Homo sapiens: one gene and its partners. The main gene of each other region encodes a partner of the protein of the gene in region 2 in a complex. Each region holds a gene or a part of one and is shown on either strand. Other genes may lie near its edges. The genes, in order: CEP290, TMEM237, AHI1 and TMEM67.

The links.
Region 1: TMEM237 (region 2) and CEP290 share a complex: the UniProt entries of both Homo sapiens proteins name them as parts of the tectonic-like complex.
Region 3: TMEM237 (region 2) and AHI1 share a complex: the UniProt entries of both Homo sapiens proteins name them as parts of the tectonic-like complex.
Region 4: TMEM237 (region 2) and TMEM67 share a complex: the UniProt entries of both Homo sapiens proteins name them as parts of the tectonic-like complex.

What each region holds. Positions count from the first base shown.
Region 1 is NC_000012.12:88,139,089-88,146,784, reverse strand, and holds the start of CEP290 (centrosomal protein of 290 kDa), read left to right. Parts: upstream 1-4,696; 5' UTR 4,697-4,885; intron 4,886-4,910; exon of another isoform or gene 4,911-5,052; intron 5,053-5,450; 5' UTR 5,451-5,477; coding exon 5,478-5,579; intron 5,580-5,751; coding exon 5,752-5,829; intron 5,830-7,220; coding exon 7,221-7,290; intron 7,291-7,593; coding exon 7,594-7,640; intron 7,641-7,696. UniProt on the Homo sapiens protein: Involved in early and late steps in cilia formation. Its association with CCP110 is required for inhibition of primary cilia formation by CCP110.
Region 2 is NC_000002.12:201,640,496-201,647,586, forward strand, and holds the start of TMEM237 (transmembrane protein 237), read right to left. Parts: upstream 3,009-7,091; 5' UTR 2,906-3,008; coding exon 2,864-2,905; intron 2,176-2,863; exon of another isoform or gene 2,132-2,175; coding exon of another isoform or gene 2,114-2,131; intron 430-2,113; coding exon 398-429; intron 1-397. Other genes in the region: MPP4 (MAGUK p55 subfamily member 4), read right to left, coding at 4,715-4,909. UniProt on the Homo sapiens protein: Component of the transition zone in primary cilia. Required for ciliogenesis.
Region 3 is NC_000006.12:135,459,733-135,466,756, forward strand, and holds part of AHI1 (jouberin), read right to left. Parts: intron 6,642-7,024; coding exon 6,082-6,641; intron 3,575-6,081; coding exon 3,393-3,574; intron 1-3,392. UniProt on the Homo sapiens protein: Involved in vesicle trafficking and required for ciliogenesis, formation of primary non-motile cilium, and recruitment of RAB8A to the basal body of primary cilium.
Region 4 is NC_000008.11:93,750,212-93,757,907, reverse strand, and holds the start of TMEM67 (meckelin isoform 1 precursor), read right to left. Parts: upstream 3,015-7,696; 5' UTR 2,994-3,014; coding exon 2,771-2,993; intron 2,131-2,770; coding exon 2,042-2,130; intron 1-2,041. UniProt on the Homo sapiens protein: Required for ciliary structure and function. Part of the tectonic-like complex which is required for tissue-specific ciliogenesis and may regulate ciliary membrane composition.

The DNA of each region.
Region 1 (7,696 bases), on a different chromosome or scaffold from region 2:
TATAGTTTCAAGTTTTATTTCCTAAATTTAATCAGTTATTTAAGTACTGAGAAAGTTTTCTTTGTTAAGTTAGGCATCTGAAGTACTTAAAAATGAATACATTCAAAATAATTCAATTCTTCAATATATCTTTATTTTACATATATATACATATATATGTATATATATATATACACACACACACACACACACAAATATATAGGTATGTATATGGTTCTTCTGTTAGTTGTGCCTGGGGTCACTCATGTGCTTATAGTTATCCAGTGGCTTGATTAGGGCTGGATGGCTTTTAAAGGGTAGATTTCTCAGCTTTGAAAACTAGTCTCTGCTACTTATTAACACATCCTCTAATAGGTTATCTTAGGCTTCTTAAATGATGATCTCAGGACAACAGGAGGGCAAGGTTCAATGCACAAGCTCTTTATAAGGCTCTATTTAGTGCGTATTTTAAAAATTATTATTCAAGCAAGGTACATCCTGAATCAATGGGGAAGAAGTTATAAAAGGGCCAAGATAACAGAATTTTTAAGATTCCCCAAGGGAGCATAGTATGAGAGAAAGGGAGAGAGAGCATGTTACGAGCTCAGTTGTGGAGTCATCTTAGGTTACTTCCAAGAGCCACCTGCAAAGTAGAGGTTGCAGGGAAGGGACAGATTTACACAAAGGCATAGGCAGACGGGGACCTGACTCACTGGGGGCCATTATTGCAAACATGTAACACACTATTCTTGTTAGTTGTGAGAACTTCTAATTTTTCCTAGGCACAGAAGCAGACTTACAGATGCAGTTTAAGTGGATGGGATGACTGATTTCTGTTTGCTTACAAAAATGGGGTGTTACTATATATGTGCACAAAATCCAAGTGCAATTGGAAATGTGAAAGGAAAATAAAACTTGGGATCTCAATTCATTATGTCTATAAGAAAAAATTAGGGTGAAAGCTGAGTCATGCAAGAAACTGCTCTCCTTTTGTTCTTAGCAGACAGCTACACATCAAATGTTAAATATCTCCACAGGTAGCTACTTTAGGACATTCATCTTATCTCACGTAAAGTGCTGATTTACCACCCCACGTGAATACATAATATCTATTTCCCTCTCTGCTCTTTTTCTCTTGCAACACATAGATTACCATATCTACCCTTTTTCTCTTCCAATGGATTTTTCCCCTTTAAATACTGAAGCCCTCAAAATCATCTTAGAGAAAGGAAGAGACTACAGACTGTTTCTGTGATTCAGTGTTTATTTCTTTTCGGCATGTCCCTAACCTTGGCAAAATAAACTTCTAAATTGATTGAGACCCGTCTTAGACACTTTTTGGTTCACAAAGACTTCTCATGAGCTACATTATAGATATACAAAACTAAATACAATCCCTTCAATAAAACTGTAAATTGTATTAAGGCAAATTGTTTTGCCTTAATTTCATGGACAAGAATGAGTGTGCAGCAAGCAGATACTTGTCTTCCTTCAACATGAGGAAACTGGAAAGATCAGTAGGGAGTCAGTGTGAATTAAGCCATTAACCATGGCTTAATTTGCCATGAAGATAAGGCAAAACAAAATGTTTAGGACACACAATGGATACAAAATGGCCATGCTTTGTTTTAGAGATCGGAGAAGTAAGCTACTATGACTTTTCTTGGTAAGTCAGCAAAAAGGAACTAGAAGTAACATCCAAGGAATATAAATTCATTGCTACAGAGAACAAAGGTAAGCAATAATAAAAGGTGAGGCCTTCTTGTGAAGTGATTTTGGTCAGATAAAACTGTTCACAAAAGCCTAGGGCAGAAAGAAGGCAGGTCCAGACAAGTGTTCTTATAACAAGGCCACTTACAACATTGTCACATAAGTCCCATTTCTTGATGAAAACTGACAGGTGCAGAAAATCTGACGAAAAATAATAGTTTTGCCAATTTTCCTCAAAAATATACAGTGAGTTATTGAACTAGAACCTGAGTTAAATTTCCTGACTCACACTTAGGTACAGACGACAATGCATAAAAACTTAGTTGACTTGTTCAAGCCAGAGCTGACTTGTTCACTGCTGTATCCCCAGTGCCTAGCACAGGAAACAGGATAAAAAATACTGTTAGAATGAGTTAAAGAATAAAATTTAGGTAAGATTTTGCTTTTAGTTACAATTGTCACTGAGATCTAGGTTACAATCTTAGCTTCATCAATTATTACTTAACTTCTATGAACTTGTTCTCACTTCTGAAAAATTAGAATAAAATTTACCATTAGAGACCAGGCACCTTGAGTTTATGAATGTGAGCAAGAGGGTGGTGGCAGAAGGGTAGAAAAGAGTAATACAGACAAACGAAACTTGTAAGTGAATACATAAAAATAAGTTATAACGAATGAAAAAAAAAACAGAAGAAAAGGTGTTAGAGAAAACAGACTTCTATTATGAAAACAAACACGCAGTAGTCAGCATAGTGTATGACATAACATGTGCTCAGTAACTATTAAATTTCATTCCTACCATTGTCAGAGGTATTTGAATCACAACAACTCCATCTTGAATAGGGGCTGGGTAAAATAAGGGTGAGACCTACTGGGCTGCATTCTCAGGATGTCTGTCAGTCATTCTAAGTCACAGGATGAGATAGGAGGTGGGCACAAGATACTGATCATAAAGACTTTGCTGATAAAACAGCATGCAGTAAAGAAGCCAGCCAAATCCCACCAAATCCAAGATGGCGAGAAAGGTGGGACGTCTGCTCGTTCTCACTGCTCATTATACACTAATTATAATGCATTAGCATCCTAAAAGACACTCCCACCAGTGCTATGACAGTTTACAGATGCCATGGCAATGTGAAGAAGTTACTCTATATAGTCTAAAAAGGGGAGGAACACTCAGATCTAGGAATGGCCTACCCTCTTCCCAGAAAACTCATGAATAACCCACCCCTTGTTTAGCATATAATCAAGAAATAACTATAACAATCCTTAGTCTACCACCTCCAATGGGGGTGTATGCACCTCCAATTCTTTCTTGGCGAGATCCAGGAGCCCTCTCCTGGGGTCCAGATCAGAACACCTTTCCAGAAACACCATCCCATGTTAAATTATGAATTAAGAACACTGAACATGAAGAATGTTTAATTCAAATTATTGAGTAAACACTTACAAAATTAAAATATAACATTTAATAAAAATAGCAAGATTGAGGAACAAGCACTTCACAAATATTGGTTTCCCAGAATGTCTGAGGAGGTGTATAGAAGTTAAGAATATGTCCTCCAGCCAGAGAGATCTGTGTTCAATCACACTATTTAAGTTACTTAGCTTCTCCAAGCCTCAGTTTCTTAACTCAGATGGAAAATGAGGACAATGTAAGCACCTATTTCACTGGATTGTAAGGAAGAATAAACAAGATAATGAATAGTATTTGGCATATAATCTTTCAGAAAAGTAGTAAAATTGTCATTCCTATAAATCTAACTAATGTCTTTAAAATTCATCTCACAAAATCAGTATCTTTTTATTTTGTACTGAGCTACTTATTTTACCCAAATTGGGGGTTTAAAAAGAAACTCATTACTTATTTTCGAAAGGAAAATTTACTGTCAAGTACAGTAATTTTTTTTTTAAAGCAGCGTTTAAAAAAAAAAAAAGACAAAGCACTGGTCCAGATAGTTGGAAATGTCATTTAGATTTAAGTCTACAGCTTCTTAGGAAAGTTAGGTAGAGATGTATCATACTCCAGCATGATTGTGAGCAGACGAGCAGGATGAGCAAAACTTGCACGAGTAAGAGTGGTAAACACCAGAGAAGGCGCTTTCATGGAAGGGCACCCTAGGTAACCAAGCAAGTGGCAACAATAGTACAGGTGAGTCCTTGGATCCCTTCTCTCTCCACCCCCGGCAGTGGTCCGGACAAGTACTAACCTCTCCTCTCTAGAGCCTTGACTTTATACTAGCTCCACAACCATCAAGCCCCACGATCCGCGAAAGGAATGGTGCTACAGGTAAGGCGGGCGGGGTCGGGATGCCGAGACCTCTTGTCAATTCTTCGCTCGCCCCCAAACGAGGATCACGGCTGCGCGGCTCTCACTCTAACTATCAAGACAGATTCTGATACTAAACAAGGCTAAAACTTTTTGTTTTTTCCTTCTTACAGAAGGCACTACCCTGGACGCCGCTTGCAAACGCCTGAAGAGAAGGCAGGGTGTTCCCACTTTTTCAGAATGGGACCAGGCCCTACGGCCCCAATAGCAGAAGCTTCTCTAACCCAGGACTGCTCCCCTCAATTCCTCCCAATATGCTGACCGACAGCTCGACCTCACCTGGGGGCGGTTCCGCCAGGGGATGGCTTAGGAAAACCTCAGGAAGAGCAGCCCAGCGAGTGACGCCACTGAAACCACAGTCATGGTCTACCTCGTTCAGGCCACCAGTTTGCAGGCGCCTGAGCCGCTGCTCCTCCCGCCTCTCGGTCCTTCCCCGCCGCCCCGGTACCGTCGCAGTCTTACGCGTTGCATGCCGGGAGCGCCTTACCTCCTCTTCTCAGGGACTTCAGTTCCCAGCATGCAGAAGCCTCAGGCAGAACTGCACTCTGGGATTTGAAGTCCTCGTTCCACGCCTTCTCATCATCCTGAACACCGAGCTCTGGGACTCCGGCGGAGAATCTAAACGTAAAGCATCACCCACGGTCGTGAACTGTAGGCTCTCCTGGCATCCGGGATCTTATTCTGGCCTTGGCGGAGTTGGGGATGGTGTCGCCTAGCAGCCGCTGCCGCTTTGGCTTGCTCGGGACCATTTGGCTGGACCCAGAGTCCGCGTGGAACCGCGATAGGGATCTGTCAGGGCCCGCGGCCGGGTCCAGCTTGGTGGTTGCGGTAGTGAGAGGCCTCCGCTGGTTGCCAGGCTTGGTCTAGGTGGGTGGATCCTTGTAAGCAGGATTAGCGAGTCACTCCACGCTCAGGTTCTTTAGCCTGAGGGCCCGTGTGCCACAGCATAGCTACCCCGCCCTTCCAGCCTCGGGTCCCTAATACTGCCTTGCTTCGGTTCCAGTTTCCGCCGCACAACTTCACTCATTCCAAATGTTAATTTCTGCGTTTTTTTTCAGCCCCAATTCTGTTTCTCCAAATCAGGGATGATTGTCGGCCTTCCACAGACCCTCGCGCTTGCCAGGATTAGGGTGTTCGCGCGCATTGTGGGTAGGGGTGTGGAGGAAGGGATCCAGAAATCTTAAGTATTAACTTAGATTAGTGTTAGCAAGGAAGCCGTCACATTTTATTTAGCCGGGACACTCTGACAGTTTGTGCCGACTGCTATTTTTGATCAAGGCTATTTTGCCCACTTGTCTATTTTGTGGCCCAATTGTCTGTTTTGCTAACATCAGAAAGTTATAATGAAATAATCTGCAAAAAATGTAAGGTGCTAGAAAACCAATAATACTGTGTACCTTGAAAATGCTAATATACACCTGTTTTGTTACAGAGGTGGAGCACAGTGAAAGAATTCAAGATGCCACCTAATATAAACTGGAAAGAAATAATGAAAGTTGACCCAGATGACCTGCCCCGTCAAGAAGAACTGGCAGATAATTTATTGATTTCCTTATCCAAGGTGCTTAATTGGTCAATAATAATAGATATATACATTAACTTATGATTAATTTATTAATAAAATATGAATTTATTTTTTTCAGGGACAACTATAATTGTCACAATCTGGAAGTGTTCTTATATTTTGCTTGAAGGTTATAAAATATAAAACAGTTGCTTTTCTGTTTACTTAGGTGGAAGTAAATGAGCTAAAAAGTGAAAAGCAAGAAAATGTGATACACCTTTTCAGAATTACTCAGTCACTAATGAAGGTTTGTATGTAGTAGGTTTTAACTATAGGTTTGGCTATTAGTGGAACTATAAAAATCTGTTCTTATATAAGGTAATCTTTGTGAAAATACCTGGTAATATCTACATCACCACTAAAAAATGCAATATATTTAAATGTGAATTAAGTATTTTAGTGTATAAAACATTGCTAGTTTCTACTTAAAGTTTCTAAAAGGGTGTGTAGGGGAAATAGAATGAGTATGTTGAAAAGTAACATAAGGAAATATATCTTGAGGTCCAAATGACAAATGCAGACAATGACTGCTATAGGGATTTGTTAAGAGGGGAAATGATTTAAGAGATGTCAGAAGACTTCACAAAGGATCAATACTGAGGAGTAGTGTTAGATAAGTGGAAGGCAATGCAGTGGTAAGATAGTAAGGGAATTCTAGAGCTGTTGGTTACCATAAATAAATACTGAGAACAGGAAATATGTTTATTCTTTATATTTGAGGAAACAAGGTGCAGCAAGTTTGTAGCAGACTGTAGAGAAAACAAATCTTGGGTAAGTACTTTGAGATAGGTTGTTGAGGGCCTTAAAGGTGTATTTTATGCTATCAGCAATTGAGAAGGCAGTAAAGGTTTTCGAAACACAATTGATAGGTACAAAAATACACCTTAAGAAGGCAAAACTGAGTATATTATGTAGGACAAACTGAAGGAAATTGGAGCTTTGTAGACATCACATTATAGCGGAGTTTAAACCTGAAATTATGGATTAGAATAATAGCAATTGGAACAGAAAAAAAGTAGTGGAAAGACATTACAAAGGGAGATGTTGCATTACTGGATATAAGACTTGAGGACTTGAGGTAAAAAGGAGAATCAAAAATGTTTCATGCTATTAAAAATCTAGAAATTGTAGTCTTAAGTAAGAAAATTGCCTGGCATGGTGGCTCACGTCTGTAATCCCAGCACTTTGGGAGGCCAAGGCAGGAGGATTGCTTGAGCCTGGGAGTTCAAGACTAGCCTGGATAATATAGTGAGTCCTTGCCTGTACGAAAAAATTTGCCGAGCATGATGGCACACCAAGCATGATGGCACGCCAAGCATGATGGCATGCACCTGTAGTCCCAGCTACTCAGGAGACTGAGATGGGAAGATTGCTTGAGCCCAGGAGGCAGGAGGTTGCAGTGAGCTGAGATTGTGCCACTGCACTCCAGCCTGGGTGACAAAGTGAGGCCCTATCTCAAAAGCAAAAAAAACAAAAACAAAAACCAAAAACTATTTATTCAGCAAATATTTACTGAACGTCTCCATGTGCCAGCCATTGCTGGCACTAAGGATCATAACAAATAAAACAGAATTTTTATTTTCAGTGCTTACATTCCAGTATAAAGGCATATTGAAATAACCTTTTTTTAATGTTTAGATGAAAGCTCAAGAAGTGGAGCTGGCTTTGGAAGAAGTAGAAAAAGCTGGAGAAGAACAAGCAAAATTTGGTAAGCACCTTGGAAAAAGTTTATTATGGTATTAAATAATGAATTCCATTTGTTCATTAAACTGTAGAAAATTAAATTATATTCTATAAAATATATATATTCAGTTTATTTTTAATATATAACATTTAATAATAAATATTTCTAGACTCCTATTTTATGGATCTGCCATATAATACTTTTTGTTACCTTATAATCATGATGGACTCTTTTAAAAGAATTAATTTTGTTATTGAAATTTATTTAAAAGTTTGTTTTGTGGTAACTAATCAATTAAAACGTTTTTCTTTTTTTTTAAAAAAATAGAAAATCAATTAAAAACTAAAGTAATGAAACTGGAAAATGAACTGGAGGTATGTCTTTTTGTATTCCCTAGGATGTAATTGTCATTAATTTTATTTTGAATTGT
Region 2 (7,091 bases):
ATATACATATTCCCTACTGTCTATTAATAAAATGGATTAAGCAGATTAAGAACTCTTACTTGTGACTGATTAAAATCAGCTTAAACTCTGAGGAAACTATTCTCACAAAAGACCAGAATTCTGATTTAAAAAAAAAAAGACACCAAAACAGTTAGAAAGGGAATGGATCCATTATCCTACCATGTTGATATTCAGGCTTTTAAATATAACATTCCATTATAACTGTTATTCTTAAAATTCAAGGATTTTTCACCTTTAAAATTTCAGAAAATCCCTAAATTTTTCAGAAGAGTTTCCTGAATCATTGTAATTTTGCAATGATACTAGTCAATTTTTCCACTGTCTTCATTTTCCATTTTTAAAGCTCAATAATGAAATTACTGTAAATTATTTTTACCTTGGCACAGGTGGAAGAGCTCGTGGAGGACGCTGTGGCGGAAAAAATAAATTTGCTTGTAAGTAAAAGCCTAGAGCATCTTTACTTCAAATACCATCACGCTATTTTTTTTTTTTTGAGATGGTGTATTGCTGTGTGGCCCAGGCTGGAGTGCAACGGCACGATCTTGGCTCACTGCAGCTTCCATCTCCTGGGTTCAAGCAATTCCCCTGCCTCAGCCTCCCAAGTAGCTGGGATTACAGGCACCCACCACCATGCCCGGCTAATTTTTGTATTTTTAGTAGAGACGGGGTTTCACCATGTTGGCCAGGCTGGTCTTGAACTCCTGACCTCAGGAAATCCGCCCACCTTGGCCTCTGAAAGTGGTGGGATTATAGGAGTGAGCCACTACGCCCGGCCAAAGCAATTCTTTCAAAAGTCTGTTGTTCAGACATGACAGAAAAATATAATGGATCAGACTAGGATCTTCAAATCTCTTGATAATCTTGTTCATCAGTGAAACCTGGGAGGTACTGATGAGAAACATGGGCAATTTAAAATTTGTTCTCCCATCCTAAATTTCATATAAAATTCCTTCCTTCCTACATTCCTTTCCATCTCTAGGCCAGGCCCTTTTCTAAGCATTAGGAATACACTAATGAACACAATGGAGAGAACTCTGCTCTTATGAAACTTACATTCTAGTGGTTGAGTATTAGAAACAATGTTAAAAATATATATATGATAATATATACTATATATTATATGCAGCATGTACGATAAAATATATTTATATGCTATATTTAAGACATATCTTGTATACATATCGTGTGTGCATATATATATATATACACAAGATACACACACACAAAACGTAATGAATGAAGGAGACTGAGTGCTACTTTTGTTAGGGAAAGTTTCTCTGAGTTTGAGCTGAGACCTGAATGAGAAAGCAGCAACCGGAACAAATGCAAATATTTTTAGGTTAAATTGGGCTTGGAATGTTTCAGGTAAAAGGACAGCAAGGCTGCCGCACAATTACCAAGGAGAGGTAGGCAGGAGCCAGATTAGTTAGGGCCTTGCAGACCAAGGGAAGTTTGGATTTTGTTTTAATTCAATGGGAAACAAATGGAGGTTTTAAACCACATACTAACACAATTTTTAAAAAGGCCAGTTGCATACACTGGGAAGAATGCGTTTTAGGGCAGAAAGAAAGGTGGGGGGAACCCTTCTAAACCCTCATTTACATGAATAAGAAAAGTGTTTGTAGTTCAGACAGCATTACAGTTGAGAAGTATTTTAGAATCATATAGTAACAGAAATGCCTAGAAGCCAATTTAATGTTCCAAGTATCTCATGCTGCTTGCATAAGACATTTATTCAAAAGGGTTAAATTTTAGACACTCTTGTAGTTTGTCCCATTTAGCAATCCATTCGTTCGAACAGTAGATTAATGCAAGTACTACAAGATTAGGACGAGGCAAGCTGCCGTAATACCATCCAGTAGTCAAAATTACAATTGGAGAAGAATGACAGTCACAGGAACGCGCTATTGTTCTAAAGATGCTACGAAGCGCGCGCGATCGATCCCAGGGCTCTGTTCACGTAACTGATTTCAAAAGTCCCGCAAAAATGACGTTCCACCCACCCAGAGACCCAACCTCTAATCCTCAAAAGTAGGACGGCTCAACTGAAGACAAAAATCCTAACAATTAAAAGTAGCTAAGGCTCGCTTACCACAGGATTCTTCCCCATTCTGCGTTTAGCCGGCCTCGGCGGCCGCCGGCCCCCAAGCACCTGGCGCCCCACCCCTCCCGGCTCGGTCGCGCGCGCAGGCGCAATGCGTCATCGGGCCGCGCCGCCTGGCTAGTACCCCGCGCGCAGCGCCCTGCGGGGATGTTGCGGTGAGAGGCGTGCAGGGACCTGGATTGGCCAGTCCAGACTAGCCCTGCCAAAAAGGGGGCCTCGGAGTTGGGGGTAATGTGCCCAGGAGCAGAAATCTGGCGACCGTGGCGCTGCAATCACAGCTTTCCCGTGGTTTCCTAAGTGGTGGCGGTGATTTGTTTGCGGGAAGCGGGGCGTGACGGAAGACCTTAATTAAAGGACTCCGCAGGCGAACAGATCTCTTCTGGGCAGCTACAGACCTCTCCTCGGAGGAGTCTAGGAGAGGCCTGGCTGGAAGCCCCGGCACCCGCCGGGCCCCGGGCCTCAGATGAGTGAGGCGTCGTCGTGGCAACGCGGGCTCAGGTCCCCGCAAACTTCATGCCAGGCCTCTCTCTCCCACTCCGGGAGTTCGGTCCCGGCCTCGCCTGCGTCTCCGTCCCATTCCTGTGAACACTGGAGGGGCGGATGCGCGCACCCCACGAGCAAGGCCCTCCCTTAGTGATTCCCAGCTCGTTGGCGCCCCCCCACACACACCCACCCCCACTGCCAAGTGTAGCTGTTTACCCGCCACCTCTCGAGGCCGACGCGCCCCTCGCCGCTCACCAGGTGGCCCTCCTCCAGCCGAGCCCCCGAGTCAGTCCTCATGGTGCTCTCCCCGCGGGGCTGCCCCGGCGCAACCGCCGGCGGCCCGAGCCCAGCTCCCCGCGACGCAGCGGCCTCCGGGACCTGTGGGACGCCGGGGCTTCGTGGCGCCTGGCGAGGCAGCCGCCCCCTGAGCCAGGTCCCCGCCCGCCTCTGTCCTGCCAGGCGCTGCTGGGTTTGGGAGGAATGCGTTTACTCTCCAGGACCAACGAGTCTGTGCAGGCCTGGGTGTGTGGATGTGTATTAATATAGGCAATTCTCACATTTTCTCCGATTGCTTACCCTTCATCCCACAACTGTGTAAATCAAATTTGGAAAAACTTTTTCTCAACCTTAAAATCAAATCCAACCTCACATAAATATCACTACAAACTACCTGATTTGCATCGTTTGGTTTGGTTGGGTTTGTTTTTTTTTAAAGATAACTTTCACTTTAAGTAACAGAGAACTACAAATATTTTGAATCATGCATTCTGTTTTACAGTTAAGAAAGAAATGGGAAAGATGGAAGAATGGTGTGGATATGGAGAAGAGAATGATGCAGAAGATGAACAGATACAGGGACAGGGAAAGCGCCTGGAAATCTCAAATCTGGGGAAAGAAAGAGAAACAGCACTTTGTAATGGCATCCTAATCTTGTTACCAAACAAACGGGGCTTGTTGCCCTATACGCACAGAAGCCAATATTATGGCGCTGATTTTTTGAGAAAAGTTTTCATTGTGAGTCAGCTAACAAGGAGACAGGAGTATAGCTCTAATCTGTCTCCCTGTGTTGGCTTTAAGACAGTATTTTTATTAGAAAACGTTTAGGGGGTGGATTCTGGGATTAGTAGGTGATTGGTGGAAGGAAAGAAGCCATCTGGAAAATCCTCTGGCGTTCGCAGTTACCTCTTCATGTCCCTTCATGGGTCGCATGTGCAAATTTTGGAGGGAGTCAGTGTGAAACATGGGGAAAGATTCAAGCTGTGACGCCAGCAAGCTCATTTTGTACAGACTCCAGGTAGCCATCCGTGTTAGTACTAACCACTTTCAGCCAGTTTGCTTTGTTTTGTTTTGTTTTGTTTTTTAATCTCACAATGGAAGAAGTTTAGGCGTTTTATTTAGCAAGTTGTTTTTTATCTGCCGTCCTGCATGCTCAAGAATTTCTGTTAGTCCCTGGTTTCTTTAACTCTGAGACACGGTTTCACTCTTGTGATTTTCTATATATAGGTCTCTGGGATTAATCCATTGCCTTTTTCTAATTTAGGCCTGCATGTAGATATTGGCTGTTAAGGAAAATTAGTGTTTGTCACACCTCTCATGAGAATAATTTTTTCCTTGTAGGCCGATTTGTAAATAGTGAAGGCAGTGCAGTTTCTTGTAGGTTTTGATTTTAGATGTGAAATGTGTACATTAAACCTTTCTTGCTGAGTTAGTCAAGTAAGCACTTTTTGTAAAAGATGTTTTCATAAAACACGTTTCATAGAGTACAGTTTCTAAAGTTAACTATTGCTTATTTTATTTAGGAAAGCTCTTTATTTAAATCTTAAAAAGATCATGTGAAATCTGCGAAAGGTTCTCATACTCAGTGACTTAACATTATTCATATTTCTACCACAGCTGCATATGAGGTAAAGGAAAAAAAATTAAGTTAAAATAGGTAACCACATAACCATACAATAAAAATTTTTTTCAAATAAGATTAATTAATAAATTGCTGCACTTTTAAAGTTGTACACATTAAAATGGGTCAAATACTGTTGTTTTAGATTGCAACTATGGATCGCTGTATCAAGGGTACAGTGTTAAAACTCCAGCATTAAACAAGAAGTCTCATTGAGACTCAGTATCTGAGGAAATCCATGTTGCTGGTACCCACTGAGGCTCCTCCTGAGCCTTCTGTATGGCAGACAACAACTGGGCACATGCATCGTGCAAGCTGTCATTCACAATCACATGATCAAAAAATTGGCCAAACTGAGTTTCCATTCTTTGGGCTAAATTTTCCATCTCTTGTAGGTCTTCATCCTTTAGGAGAAATAGAAAAATATGGATAGTACAGACTTAATTGGACAAATGGAAAAAATACAGTTTGTTATGCTGTCACATTCAGTTGTGAAACTATGTATAAAAACAGTAAGGTCCGAAAATTTTGCACAGATGATTTTCAATAAAGTTTCAAAAATATTTTTTCAAAATTCTACAAAACCAGCAAACTAGAAAATAGTAATTTTTTTGCCCTCTGTTATTGAAATAATGTGGCTAAGTATAGATAAAATAATTTTTTTTTTTTTTAGACAGGGTCCCACTCTGTCCCAGGCTGGCATGCAGTAGGATCATCTCAGCTCACTGCAGCCTCTGCCTCCCAGGCTCAAGTGATCCTCCCACCTAGGCCTCCCAAGTAGCTGGGACTATAGGCACATGCCATCATGCCCAGCTAATTTTTGTAGAGAAAATATAATTATTATAACAGGTATAAACATATCCTTCTAAATTAATGTGAAGCATAAGCAAAGCTGGGAAAAGTATATCACTATCCACAGTATGTCATCCTTTATTTCTTAGAAATGTATTACTGAGATAAAGAAATTTTAATTTGGAAGTTTTTTTAAATAATAAAAGACTGAAGTTTTTATTTTAAAAAATGAGGTCCAATAAATGTCTTCTAAACTACAAAACTTATGTTTTAATCTTTAGTCTTAATGTCTCGTCATGTTTTGCAAAATTTAGTCATAGTTTGCAGACAGATTACTCCCCTCAACTTCCCGTGTGAACTTATCTTACTCTTACCTAAACACTTGAAACTTTTTAACCATATACAACATAAAACCAAAGAAAATGTACCAGTTTAAATAAAATTTAAACATAAATTTCAAGTGAACATTAATCTGATAGGGATAACATTAAAGATACAAAATGGCCACTTTCAACATGAGGATGGTATAAGCCAGTTATATTATGTTTCTACTATTGTGAAATGTTCATTTAATGAAGGTAATTTGGCATTCACTTGGCACTAATGCATTAAATTCATTGCTGTTATTTTCTTATTAGTTCATGAAAATAGTACAACTTGTCACCAATACAATCTGAAACACAAATGCAGGCACCAAAATCTTGTGGCTTTACAAAGTGACCATACATATGATCCAGAAACAATTTTGTTAATTTGTTTAGACTGCCATAAAAATGAGAACAATTTTAAATGCCCATAAGACTCAGCAAATACATTCATGGACTCCACTGTTCACAAGGCAAACTGGAAAATCAGACCTCCATAGTCATTGCAAAAAATATGAAAATAAAAATAATAAGAGAAAGGATAATTTAAAGATACCTGTGCTTGCTTTGGTAGCACACAGACTAAAACTGAAACAATGCAGAGATTAGCATGGCCCTTGTACAAGCATGACATACAAATATTTAGTGAATCATTCATATTTTTAGTTTCAATTTTGCCAGGTAAATAAATTCTAGAGCTCTGTTTCACACAATGTGAATATACTTAACACTAAATACTAACACTGAACTGTACACTTAAAACGGTTAATATGGTGAGTTTTATGTATTTTTACCACACATATACACACACACACAAGTGGCTGTAATATCTTGATGTGGGTGATGGTTATCTGGGTGCATACACACATAAAAATTCATTAAACTGTACACTCTGTACACCTTACTGAATGTATGTTATGACACAATATTTAAAGCATATTTAATGTAAAATATATGTACGCAACCGGAAAAAAAATCACCTGTTCTAGGATGAGATCACTGATTAATTTCACTTGGCTTGCCCCCTCTATTATTACCATCATCATTTTACAGATGAGATATACTCACTGAGCATTTTTAAAGTAAGCTTTTAAGTAAAAGATATTCTGTTTAAAATACAAACACCAGGCTCATACATGCCCAATTTCTGTTTGGCTTTGCAAACTACGGCTCAAGGATTTTTTTTTAAGCTAGACCCAAAAAAATAAGAAAGTAAAAAATAAGGGTAGCATCATAACATTTATTAAACTTTATATCTGTAAGTGATGTCCATCCAAAAGGATAAATCGTAAGGGCATTATCCATTAGAAACAAAAATTACATTCTCTAACACAGATCCTGTAGAAACAATACAGTTTTAATTTTTTTTTTAAATAAAACCATAGTAAACCATTTTATTGAGGGCCTTTTGGAGAGGGGGTCAAAAAGG
Region 3 (7,024 bases), on a different chromosome or scaffold from region 2:
ACAGAAGTAAAAAAAAAAAAAAAAAAGATTGATAATAAAGAGATTAAATCTTGATTTGTATCAAGGCAAGCAAAATGATAAGGCATAAGGACTGAAAAAGAAGCGATAAAACTATCGTTATTAACGTATTACATGATTGCATATGTAGAAAAATCCAAACAATGTAAGAATAAACTCTGTGGGCCGCGATAGCTCACATCTGTAATCCCAGCACTCTGGGAGACTGAGGTGGGAGAACTGCTTGAGCCCAGGAGTTTGAGACTAGCCTGGAAAATGTAGTGAGACCTTGTCTCTACAAAAATTAGCCAAGAATGGTGGTGCATGCCTGTAGTCCCAGCTACTTGGAAGACTGAGGTGGGAAGATCGCTTGAACCTGGGAAGTATAAGTTGCAGTGAGCTGAGATCACGCCACTGCACTCCAGCCTGAGTGACAGGGCAAGACCCTGTCTCAAAAATAAATAAATAAATAAACTCTTGCAATAAGTGAATTTAGCAAATCAATGGACACAATGTTAAAAAATTTTAAATACATTTCTACATATATGTACCAGCAACAAATACAAAACAAAAATTTTTTAAATGCCATTTATAATATCATTAAGAAACATCAAATCCCAGGAATAAATCTAAGGAGAGATTCTGCTGAAATGTATATTGCTGGGATATATTAAATAAGATGCAAATAAATGGAAGTGCATACCAAATTCATAGCCTGAGAATCAATACTGTGTAAAAATGTCAAGTCTCTTTAGAGAGTTGTTATGCTGTGACTCTTTAGATTCACCCAGTCTAGATCAAAATCACAGCTTGCAAGACAGAATGAGGGTAAAAAGGAAGAGGGAGAATGGAGAAGCTCTTCTAAAATCCATACAGAAATGCAAAGTAAAGAATAGCCTAGACAATGCAGATGAAGAAGGAAAAACCTAGAGTATAATACTAAATAGCAAGACCTATTAAAAAGCTACAGTATTTAGACATGGTAGTGTTGGTACAAACTGTCTAATTTAAAAGAATAGAGACTACAAAAACTGATCCACATGTAACACAGTCATGTTATTTATGGGAAAAGTGACACTGCAACACAGAGGGAAAAAGACACTCTCTTCAGTAAATGGTACTGGGTCAATCATAATATATATTCACATGGATATCTTGATCACTGCTTCCTATCATAAACATAAACCAATTCCTGATGAACTGCATATCTAAATGTGAAAGTAAAACAGAAACAGTAAAACTTTTAGAATAAAACTTTTAGAAAAATATCTTCAGAACTTAGGAAAGATTTCTTAAATCACAGCACTTACCATCAAAGGAAAAAAATGGATAAACTGGACAATACAAAAATTTCTGTTTTTCAAAAGACACCAATGAGAGAGAAATAATCAAACCAGAGTAGGACGACATTTGCGATATAAATGTGGGTAGGTATTTATATCTGAGAATAATCTCATATTGAGGTATATAAACCTATCACTACAAATCAATTAGAAAAAGACAATTCTGTGTTTTAAAAAATGCAGACAACTTGAATATATTTACAAATGTCAAAATCTAAGTAGTTAATAAACATGAAAACACTCAACTTCAATAGTTACCATGGAAATAAAATTAAAACCAAAATGAATATCACTATACATTCCTGAAGAATGAGGAAAATTTAGTCACTCCTAAGAATGACTAAAACGTTAAAAAACAGTATTACATGTTGGTAAAGATGTGGAGTGACTGGAACTCTCAAACACTGCTAGTGTCAACTGGTAAACCAACTTTGGAAAACTGGAAGTAATTATTAAAGCAAAAAATATACATAATCTATGACAGCAATTCTACTCCTAACAATATGCCCAAGATAAAGGTATGCATGTGCTTACCAAATACGTGACTGCAATGTGAATTACCGCTTTACTTATAATTGCCTAAAACTAGAAACAACTCAAATGACCATCAATAAAATAGGCAAATTAACTGTGGTATATTCACACAATGGATATCTAAATAATACAAAAACAGAATTAAGAATGAATAAGCTCAACTGTATGCAAGCAACAGTAGTATAAATCTTACAAAATTAACATTGAGTAAAAAAAGTCAGGCACAAGGAGCACAGTATTTATCATTCTATTCATATTAAAGTATAAAAATAAGCAAAAATAAACTCTGTTAGATGTCCAGGTAGTGGTTACTCCCACAGGGCAACTAACGGGAAGGTGATTTTTCTGGGTGCTAATGATGTTCTGTTTCCAAATTTAGGTAATGATTTTATAGGTATGTTCAGTTTGTGAAAAAAACTTTAAAAATATGTATATGAGTATACTGCTTAGTGCTTTATATATATAGAAACACATAAAACAAGTATACTGCTTAGTGCTTTTCTATATATATCTATATACACATTATGCTTCAACAAAAGATTTTAAAATTTTAATTATAGAAACCACAAAACATCATCACTTACATCTTCTAATGAATAAGTACTATAAAATCTAAAATTGCCCATTTTAATCCCAATTTTTGGCCAATCAAATGGAAACTGAAAGACTAAAAAAGGATGTATGAGTAGAAAAGAACATGTAAAGAAAAATAAGAGAAAACAAACAAGAAAAGAAGAAGACAGAAATCAACAAGGCAAAGAGAAAAGTTGAGAAAGGAAAGAAGTGGTATTAGGCTGACGAATTGGGAGGATACCATGTTGGACAGGATGCAGCCTTAACATCAGAAATGTTTATTGGCTGCTGACCATTTATAGCTTTCAACAACTGAGTCCTAACCATTTAGAGGATGTAAACTCAATGGTTTAAAGAAGAAATCCTCTATGACCCAATAGCAACTACAAAGTCAGTATCATTTTAGAGTTGAATTTAAAGTATGACAAGAATCAGAGAAGGTCAGGCATGGTGGCTCATGCCTGTAACCCCAGCATTTTGGGAGGCTGAGGCAGGTGGATCACTTGAGGTCATGAGTTCGAGACCAGCTTGGCCAACATGGTGAAACCCCGTCTCTACTAACAATACAAAAATTAGCCGGGTATGGTGGCATGCATCTGCAATCCCAGCTACTCAGGAGGCCGAGGCAGGAGAATCGCTTTAACCCGGGAGGTGGAGGTTGCAATGAGCCGAGATCGTGCCACTGCATTCCAGCCTGGGAGACAGAGTAAGACACCATCTCAAAAATAAAAAAAATCAGAGAAGACTCAAGTGATACAAACTCATCAGAGACCTACAGCTACAAATACATGTGTGCTTTAATCTAGATGAATTCAAGAACAAGTACCAAATATCCTATATTGAATTATTTTCAAGTATACCCATCAGTTTTAAAGGGCTAAAATTCCTAGAATCAAGTTATTTCTACCAACATACACAATTTTTCATTTAATTTGTATAGCAAACCTGCTTTAGTCTTCTTTTTTGTTTTTTTTGGTTTAGGTTTTGTATCATCTTGCATGCTGTCTTCTGTGCTTTGTTCCATTGAGCTTATTTCATCATCTTGATGAGAATCTGAAGAAACTGATCTAACTGAAGATTCTTTCTTTTGTTCACCTTCAACTGTGTCACCAGAGATGGTCAATGTACTACAAATATAATCCAAGTATCAGCCATTACAGATATATTATCATTATAATTATTATTCATGATGCAACAGAGTGAACAGTAAATAGGAGCAAAGATAATCCTAAAATCACTATTATTGTCTCTTGAGAGATGCATGTATTTTCTTATACACTAAAATGGTTAAGTGTCAAATAGGTATCATAGGTGGTATTTTATACTTCGTGAGGAGTTACACGATTCAACTAAAACTGAGCTCTAAACCCCAGGGGAAAGGGAAATTGTATTAATATTTTATGAGCAATTGATCTCTCTTTACATAGGACTTATCAAAGCATGCCCACCCTGCTGCCAAGTAAATGATTTATCAACCAATTTTTAAATTACCTTATTTAAAGGTATAAAAAGTATTCTAGGTTTGTTCCGTCTTCAAGAGGCTTCACATGCACAACTTTTGATTTCTCTTTTTTCTTTTCTTTTTTTTTTAAGACTGGGTTTCGCGCTGTCGCCCAAGTTGGAGTGCAGTGGTACAATCATAGCTCACTGCTGCCTCAACCTCCCAGGCTCCAGCAATCCTCCCACTTCTGCCTCCCAAATAGCTGAGACTACAGGCACCATACCTGGCTAATTTTTGTAATTTTTGTAGAGATGGACTTTCACTATGTTGCTCAGGCATGGATTTCTAGGTAAAAATTAATTCCTTGGTGAGTCACTACATTTTCAGAAGGCTATTACTAAAATTAAAATCTATATCACATGAACTAGTAAATGGTAAGAAGTAGCAACCCAGAAGCATACTGAGTTTAAAGAAAAACCAGCCTACTAACATTTTAATGTATCTAGTAAAAAATCTGCATGTAAATAATAAAAAATTAATTTCCAATATTTTTAGTCATATTTCAAAAAAAAAATGGGTTGAGGAAAGTAAGACTAGAGAAATATTTCAAATTAGTCATTCCAGAAAGCCATTCTATTTGATCACATCACCAAACCCTGTTCTTTAAGGAGAACAGCTACCCTTTGCGTGCCACTGTCACGTGTTATTAAAAATTCATGAGCTAACCCTATTTCATATTGACTATGGCTTACCAGTCTACCACAGAGGTGGTAGCTATGAGAAGGAAGATTTATAGTATACTATGGTAGGAAGCCTCTAAGATGGACCTTACTGATCCCCACCTCTTCATATTCATGTCTTTGTGTAATCCCCTTTCTTTTGTGTGTGGGCTGGACTAGTGACTTACTTCTGACAGACAGAATATGATAAAAGTAATGAATGCCACTTATAAGATTAGGTTCCAAAAAGACTGTGACTTCTGTCTTGCTCTCACTCTCTCAGAGCCCTTGGTCTGGGGAAGCAAGTGGCCATGTTGTGTGTAGACCATATGGAGACAGTCCATGTGGCAAGGAACTGGTATACCGGGCCCAAAGCCAGTCAGGACCTGAGGCCTACCAACAACCACATGAATGAGCTTAGAACTGGATCTTCTAAGGCCTTCTAACAGCTATGTCACTTGACAGATCCTCCCCCAGTCAAGGCTTGAGGTGACTTCAGTCCCAGCTAACATCCTGATTGCAACCTGTGATTGACAGAGACACCCAGTGAAGTCACTCTCAGATTGCTGGCCCACAGAAACTCTGAGACAGTAAATGCTTGTTGTCTTAAGCTGCTAAATTCTGGGATCATCTTTTTAATGGAGCAACAGATAACTAATATATACTATCATGTCCCTGCAGCAACTTGGTTTGCCGTATCTTTATTACCACCGGTCACCTAGCTTTTGAAAAGAGGGGAATTATTTTTGGCTGAGGGCTTTAGGGGAAATTGATGCTGAATGCCAAAGAATAGTCACATATAAAATGTTCCCACCTCAAGTTGTTTCTCTAGAGGAGAACTGCAGGGGGGAACAAAGTTAATTATAGCAGTTAAAAAGCATTTTTACCTTATTGTTTTCTCCAAATAGAAAACATATAAATATGTGTATGTTCACTTAACCTCACACTCTATATAGAAGTACATACATATATAAGCATCATATAGAGAAAAAGATTAGAATACCAAATTGCCAATAGTGATTATCTTTGAATAGTTTTTCTACAATGAGCTAATGTTATCTGTATAAGAAAAAAAGTTATATTTATATATCCAAACAGGTATTTGTAACTCAAAAAAGGGGAAGTAATTAGGTTTCTATTACTTTGAAAGCAGATGTAAGTGAGTAGTTCAGGGTAGGGACAAGGATCTGGCTCAGCCTCTTACTAGTTCTGTACTTCCATTTCCTCATCAGCAAGATAGGAAGAATATTACTTTTCCTTATAAGATTGTCATAAGAAATAAATGAGTTAATTCTCGTAAAGCACCTAGTACATAGTAAGGTGTTATGTAAAAGTTAGCTGTTCTTATCTTAGTGACAATGTCTCCAAATAAAAGCGTAAGAATTTTCTTTGTTAAACCACAGATAATATTCAAAACCTGAAAATAACAGTGTTTTTCTAAGAGGATATTTTACATTTATCAATGCAAAAATACCTTGTTTCAGCTTTAGAGAAGACTGGAACTTCCTTTTTCTTTTTCCTTTTTTCACTGCTTAGTTTGTCATCATGGAATAAAGTATCTGAGGGAAAGTAAGTCAACTGTTCTTTCAGTTTCTTTCTTATTTTCCTCTTAATCTCCTTTGCCATTTCTTCAGTTACATGGCACTGATATGCTTGCATCAATTCTTCATCCTCTTCTAAATCAGTCTCTTCTCTTCCCTCATTTGCCTTCTCACTTTTCTGATGATCAACGCCTGGCTGTGGCTTTGTATGTGTTTTCTGGTGTGTAGAATCAACCTTATTCTCAGGAGTTTCCGGTTTCAGGTCTTGTGTAGTCAACTGGGGCACCGTCTTTATCACCTTTTTATTTGGCTTTCCTTGTTTGTCTTCCTCTACACTAGCATCACCATTAGGATTTTCAGTTGCTAACTGTGTGTTCCTCAATTTGTTTTTAGTGACTCTCGTGCTCTTCTTCAGGTTGTTAGTGTTAGCAGCACTTACATCATCACTTGTAGTTTCTTTAATATGGGGAAGATTGCTTCTAATAGTGTCGGGCTAGGAAAAGAAGACATGATAACAAAGTTTCAGTTACACATAGATTAGTTATATAAAGAAAAACCTAATAATTAATATTTGACAATGTGGAATTATTGGGAGGATTATTTAGTTTTTCATCTGGACATAGTGACACTATTTTAGAGCATATGAGTACTCTCATAATTTATGCTTCCAGAATTTGATTAGTAATCTCTGAATGTAACTTCAGATTAAATGAGTTAATTGACATGGGAAAAAAGTACTTAAGGACCTATAAGAAGTGAATTAATTGCTCAAATCTCAAATGCTATTTTCCTCATACATATTTTCCTCATGATCTACACTCTAATAGATATTCGAGAAATTGCTAAAAGAGCCATTGAATGTGACATTTCAGGTCA
Region 4 (7,696 bases), on a different chromosome or scaffold from region 2:
GTGTATGCCTATAATCCTACTTGGGAGGCTGAGGCACCAGAATGGCTTGAACCAGAAAGGTGGAGGTTGCAGTGAGCTGAGATCGTGCCACTGCACTCCAGCCTGAGCAACAGTAATACTCTCTTTCAAAAAAAAAAAAAATTCATTTATGATTCAAAATGGGTAAATTTTATGAAATATATAAATTATACACATAGTTGTTAAAATTGATTTATGAGAATATTTTCTTCTATCCATTTATGGCTTGTACTAGTAAAGGTTTTTTTTTTTTTGAGACAGAGTCTTTGCTCTGTTGCCAGGCTGGAGTGCAGTGGCACAATCTCGGCTCACTGCAAGCTCTGCCTCCCAGGTTCAAACAATTCTCCTGCCTCAGCCTCCCGAGTAGCTGGGACTACAGGCACGTGCCACCACGTCCAGCTAATTTTTGTATTTTTAGTAGAGATGGGGTTTCACCACATTTGCCAGGATGGTCTTGATCTCTTGACCTCGTGATCCACCTGCCTCAGCCTCCCAAAGTGCTGGGATTACAGGCGTGAGCCACCGCGCCCGGCCTAGTAAAGGTTTTTGATAAAGTATGACAGCATTCAAAATTGGGCTTATTATATCATATGGTTTAGGAAAAGCCTGGGGCAAAAAACACAATAATTACAAACACAGATGTAACCAAAGTTTATAAAGAACAAAAATAATGCCACAAATTATTTTAAATTTTGGTTGAAAAGACTGAATTTATCAAGAAATACTCCTATATTTGGCAATACATTTATACAGGACAATTTATTTATTTATTTATTTATTTATTTATTTATTTATTTATATTTTATTTATTTTTTTGAGACAGAGTCTCGCTCTGTCACCCAGGCTGGAGTGCAATGGTGCAATCTTGGCTTACTGCAACCTCTGCCTCCTGAGTTCAAGCGATTCTCTTGCCTCAGCCTCCCAAGCAGCTGGGACTACAGGCACGCGCCACCACAGCCAGCTCATTTTTGTATTTTTAGTAGAGATGGGGTTTCACCATATTGGCCAGGCTGGTCTCAAACTCCTGAGCTCATGATCCACCAGGCTCAGCCTCCCAAACTGCTGGGATTACAGGCATGAGCCACTGTGCCTGGCCTATACAGGACAATTTAAAAATTACAATAACTTAAACAATGTCACTGAAAAAGAAATCTGCTGCGAGACCACTTTTTATTAGCAGCTTTTTATCATGGGTAATTCAGCTAGGATCAATATTTGCAAAGATATAAAATAAATGGTAATCTATTATAATCTATTATAAAGATATAAAATAAATGGTAATATAAAAAGTGGTAATCAGACTTACAAGTAATACAGATAGCTATAAATTGGGACAATTGATAACTTCACATTAAATTCCCAGAATTAATATTTTTTATATGACAATGAGAAGAAACATTACTGTAAATGTCACAACTGTTACACAGACTTTTAATTATCCAACATGATTGAAAAATATATTTATGTTGAGAATTATATATAGTAACTATTTACTAATTTTTTTTAAATTACGATACAATGAAATTACTAACAAAACAGAAACAGACATTATTTAATCTATTAATGCAATTGGTATTTCATGAAATAATTACACCTTAGATATCATTATGAACATCAATAATCATATAAACTGTTGACATGGTAGGTCTAAGACAACTCCACTTGCATCAGTCAAAAGAATATACACATCCCAAATTGCACACATCCCAGACTGCTCTATATATGCCTTATTCATCTAATTTTCTTCATAACCGAGTTATTCTACGAGTAAAAACAAAAACTTAAATTTTTACAGCTTTGTGGTTTTTGGATTTCAGATTTTAAAAGAAATACATTTCTGTTTTCTCCAAGTTTGCATGAAATTTCGCTGATCTCCCAAAACTTACTCTAGTAAAAATAAAATTAGCATAGTAATTTTAAAGTCTGTGGGGAAACATTAAACATTAAATTATATTTTGAAAAATAAAGATATTTAACTTACTACTTTTTACAGGTAAGTTATTTTAAAATAAATTATGCGCACCATGTTTTCTGGGCACTTTTTACAAATAATAGCAGGTCCTCCATTATTAGAGATCATCTGAAATCCTGGTAGACATACACATGAAGTTCCTAAAAAAAAAAAAAAAAAAAAAAAAGCCAATTTTATCCTTGATAAATAAAAATAAAGTTCCCAGATAGTGAAACTTTTAATAAGTCTGAAGATCTTGAGAAGCAGTATAGTGATTAACAGCAGGATTCTGGAGGCAGTACTGCCTGGGTTCAAATCCAGAAATACACTTCTTGAGTTCCAATCGTAGTAATCCTACTCAGTTGCATGACCTTGAACAAGTTACTAAACTCTCTGCCTTGGCTTCCTCTACAATAAAATGGAGAAAAAAAATTGGTACCTACCTCACAGGGTTAGTATGAGTACAAAATTAGTTATTATACGTAGAGGTCTTACACTGGCACACAGCTGGTATTATGCTGCTACCATTTTAAGTGCAAGTATAACTAAACTATTAAACTACTTAACTGCTGCTGGAAATTTTACATTTCTACGTCACTAAACAATATACATGTATTCGGGCCAGGCGCGGTGGCTCACGCCTGTAATCCCAGCACTTTGGGAGGCGGAGGCGGGTGGATCACCTGAGGTCAGAAGTTCGAGACTAGCCTGATCAACATGGTGAAACTCCATTTACGGGGACTAGGGGCCGACCAAGGCGGGAGTGTTACTTTTGCCAGGGCCCACCGCAAACCGTCTTACCTCGGGCATCTTGCCTCTGGTTAGCTCCACAAGGAACACACGAGAGGGCGGAGATATCAAAGTACTGGTTGTTGTCGCACTTCTCCGGCTGCTGGAAAGGGAAAGAGAAGGTCTGGGCCTGTAAGAAGCGAGGGAGGAACAACAGAAGGAACGCGGTCACGGCCCGGGCGGATAAGAGGGACCAAACCGCCATTGCCACCCCAGCCCCACCGCGCGTCGCCATGGTACCGACGCTGGAAGCCTCACAGCCTCCAGCCCCCCATCAGCCTCTGCGGCGGCTTCGCTGAGCTGATTGGACAACCCAAGTCCGGGTACCGGAAGTCACTGCTCGTGTTGCTTGGTTGCTAGGTTACCAACCCTGCGCGAAGTTGGCAGGTCCAGTAAAGAATGGGTTAGAGACCGGTTAACCCTGGAGCCCAGCGATATTTTCAAACGTGTATAGAGTTCCTCTACTTACGATAGGGCTGCCCCCTCCCCGCAATAAACCCATCGTAAGTTGAAAATATCATAATTTGTCGAGTTATAGTTACATCAGAATTTATTCAGACTAGGTAATTTTCACGTTAAAGGAAACATGACTTGTAGTTTAACAATTTGATGTCAAAAAACCCCACTGACTTAAAACCCAGTGAAGGATTACTATAGCTCAAAGACTGAAAAAATAAAAAAACTTTCCTGCCAGGTTTGAGCATAGGAAATCATGTATGCGAGACAAAGTACGAAACGGAAGAAACCATGTTTGCTCATTCTGTTGCCAGCGAAATTTCACAAAGCCCCTGACTCAGTGACTGAACGCAGTCCTCCAGAAGAATGCCCTGAAGACAATAAGTAGGATAGAGCACAAGTTTTCACATCTGTTGCTTGAATCACTTCATTTTTTAAAAAGATACAGTCAGCGATCCTAGCTCTTGCCTCTTCCTGTACGTAAGATAACGTGTGACAGGATTAATGATTATGCCTCTGTAATCTATAACCAGATGTAGTCTCCAAACAAAACTTTGATGAGATTTTGCTCCAACGTAACTTCTGAGCACGTTTAATGTAACTTTTGAGCACATGCAGAACTCCATCCCTTGATGTAGAAACTGGGGGCAGAACAGCTGCTTTGGACCAGTATAACATAAACTCTTTGAAAGACTCTCCAGGGTTGCATTCCTCAGTAAGACTCCGAATAAAACTAACTTTGAGTCTTTAAAAGCCTGATTTTTTTCTTTAGTTGACATGTATATAAAATGAGATCACCTTTACACCTTTTGTGAATAAAGGAATCTAAGCCTGGTGCTGTGGCTCACACCTCTAATCCTAACATTTTGGGAGGCCACAGTGGAAGGATTGTCTGAGCCCAGGAATTCAAGACCAGCCTGGGCAACATAGTGAGACTCCACCTCTACAAATAAAATTTATTTTAATTAGCTGGGTGGGTGGCACATGCCTATGGTCCCGGTTGCTTGGAAGGCTGAGGCGGGAGAACCACTTAAGCCCAGGAGGTCAATGAGCCCAAAGGCTGCAATAAGCTATGATCGTGCCACTGCACTCCAGCCTGGATGTCAGAGACCCTATATAAAAAAAAAAAAAAATCCTGGACAAAAATATGGAAACGTTTAGAGTTAGAGACCACTTGCGAGGCTAAGGTAGAAATCTAGAGTCTAAATTGGAGCCATGGAGGAAGGGAGAGGCAGAAGAGGATGAATAAAGGAGCTATTCAGGAAGAAGAATTATAAGAATTTTATTATTTGGACATAGGAAGTAAACAAACAGAATCAAGGATAACTTCCAGGTTTCTGATTTGGGTGGCTGGGTAGACGGTTGTGATATTAAAGGAAGATACCTGTGGTAGATAGCTTCTAAGCGAAAACTTATTGGATAAAGAAAATTTTAAGGTAGAAATGAAAGTTATAGGAATATTTAACATGGTGGGAGCTAGAGGTATGGATAATAATAGAAATAATAGGTATTAATAGCTTGTTTTTGTTATCAAGCAAATGAGCTCTCTATCCAATGCATGCACAGAAGCCAATACTATGTGGCACAAGCTTTTGAGGAAAAAAAGTCTTTATTTGCACAACTGGTCAGCAAGGAGATAGGAGTGCATTCAAATCTGTTTCCCTGATTTAGAGTCTGGGGTAAACTTATGGGCTTGGAAAGCCAAGGGAAGAATTTAGGAATGTGTCTTGGCAGGCAGAATGGAGGACTTGAAATTTGACCATTTAGAAAAAGGTACGTAGAGGCCGATTTTAGGCCTGATCCTCCAGGCAAATGGACCCAACACTTTTGAAAGAGTTCCAAGTTCAGGTTCCAGTCATGTCCCGGTCTTGGTTCCAAGGAAAGGATTCACTGGTTTTGGGTGTTGTTAGAGGTCCAGGCTTTTTCTATTGCACATGACTGGGCTACATGACTTTCAGTTTTTGGCTCTGTTACATCTAAAAGGTAACACGACATTTTGTTATCAACAGAGTAGGCTCAGTTTGGGCTAGTCCCATGGAGACACTTTTAATGTGTCCGGCATTGCAATATCTCATTTGATCCTAAATTGGGACTGTTATCATCACCTTTAATTTACAGATGAAATAACCAAGGCTTAGAAAGTATAAGTGACTTTCTAAGGTCACACTTAATTCATGGTTCTAACCCTGGTAATTTGACACCAGAGCCCATACTTTTCTTCGGGTTTTTGTTGTTGTTGTTGTTGTTTTAAACTTTAATTTAGGTTCAGAGGTACATGTGCAGGTTTGTTATATAGGTAAATTGAGTGTCTCGGGGGTTTGGGGATCAGATTATTTCCTTACCCATGTGATAAGCATAGAACCCAATAGGTAGTTTTTTGATCCATACTCTCCTTTCACCCTCCACCCTCAAGTAGTACCCAGTATCTATTGTTCCCTTCTTTGTGTCCACCTGTACACAATGTTAGCTCCAACTAATAAGTGAGAACACACAGTATTTTATTTCTTTCCTGTGTTAGTTTGAGATAGGAGGTTGGCAGGACTGATTTCACAGGATAAGATCATAAAGACCTGGCTGATAAAACAGGATAGGTAAAGAAGAGGACTGAAACCTGCTAAAACCAAGATGGTGACCAAAGTGACCTCTGGCCATCCTCACTGCTCATTATATGCTAATTACAATGGATTAACATGCTAAAAGACACTCCCACCAGCACCTTGACAGTTTGCCCCTTGCCATGCCCACTTAGAGAAGTTACCCTACATGGTCTAACAAGGGAGGACGCTCCGTTCCAGGAATTCCCCACCTTTTTCCTGGAAAACTCATGAATAATCCACCCCTTGTTTAGTATATGATCAAGGAATAACCATAAATATACTCAGTCTAGCAGTCCTTGCCATTGCTCTGCCTATGAAGTAGCCACTCTTTATTCCTTTACTTTCTTAACAAACTTGCTTTCACTTTATTCTGTCAGATTGCTCTTGAATTCCTTCCTGCATGAAGCTGAGAACCCACATGGCCACTCAGGCTGAACCCTGATTTTGAGGTTTTCTCTGTGACAAGTTTGCTTTGGATAATGCAGAGCCCACACTCTTAAGCCCTGCTTTTTATTGTTGCCTTTGAATCTCTGGATGTGCTTTTCTGGGCAGGAATAAAGAAAAGCTAAAGGCAAGTAAGTTCAAGATGAGATTAATGAATTAAAATATTACAAAGAAGGTGAAAAACAGAAGTGGAGGTTGTGGTGAGAAAGGGGAATTAGTGAGGTTCAGATCTTACATCTGGGGCACTTTGTGTGGTGAACCCTGTGTTCATTCCCAATCTCCAGACACTTAGTGCCCTTTTGATTTGTTAATCTTTTGTGTGTAACTTGTTTTTTACTTTCTTGAAGTCTTCAGGATGTTCCTCTCTGTGCCCCACCTTCTCATTTTTCTTAATTTTACAGTGATGTGTCTGGGCATGTTTCATTGTCATCTTTTGTGTGGAACACCTGTTGTAACTTTGCAATTCAGCAAAGAAACTCATGTCCTTTAACACTGGGAAATGATCTCTTCTACTAATTATTCCTTTGAAGACTTTCTCTCCGTTTTTTTTTTCTTCTGGACACCCTATTTTTCAGATACTAGACTTCCTGGACTGTTCCTCTAATTTTCTCAGATTATGTTTTCATTTTTCTTTTCTTTTTTCTTTTTTTTTTTTTTTGAGACGGAGTCTCGCTCTGTCGCCCAGGCTGGAGTACAGTGGCGGGAGGCGGGATCTCCGCTCACTGCAAGCTCCGCCTCCCGGGTTCACGCCATTATCCTGCTTCAGCCTCCGGAGTAGCTGGGACTACAGGAGCCCGCCACCTCGCCCGGCTAATTTTTTGTGTTTTTAGTAGAGACGGGGTTTCACCGTATTAGCCAGGATGGTGTCAATCTTCTGACTTCGTGATCTGCCCGCCTCGGCCTCCCAAAGTGCTAGGATTACAGGCGTGAGCCACCGCGCCCGGCGTGTGTGTGTGTGTGTGTGTGTGTGTGTGTGTGTCGGAGTTTTTTTGCTCTTGTTGCCCAGGCTGGAGTGCAATGGCACGATCTCTGCTCACTGCAACCTCCACCTCCTGGGTTCAAGTGATTCTCCTGCCTCAGCCTCCCGAGTAGCTGGGATTACAGGCATGTGCCACCACGCAGGGCTAATTTTGTTATTTTTAGTGGAGTCGGAGTTTCTCCATGTTGGTCAGGCTGGTCTCAAACTCCCGACCTCTGGTGATCCACCCATCTCGGCCTACCAAAGTGCAAGGATTACAAGCGTGAGCCACCGCGCCCAGGCTTCATTTTTCATTTTGTTTTGTTTGGTTCTACTTTCTGGAAGATTTTCCTGCGCGTATCTGTCAAACATTGAATTGAACTTTTCATTTCTTCTATTATAAATTTAATTTCTAAGAGCTCTCTTTTGTTTTCTGGCTATAGCTTAATTATGGCATTCTTGAATTCTTCCATGCTGCAATAT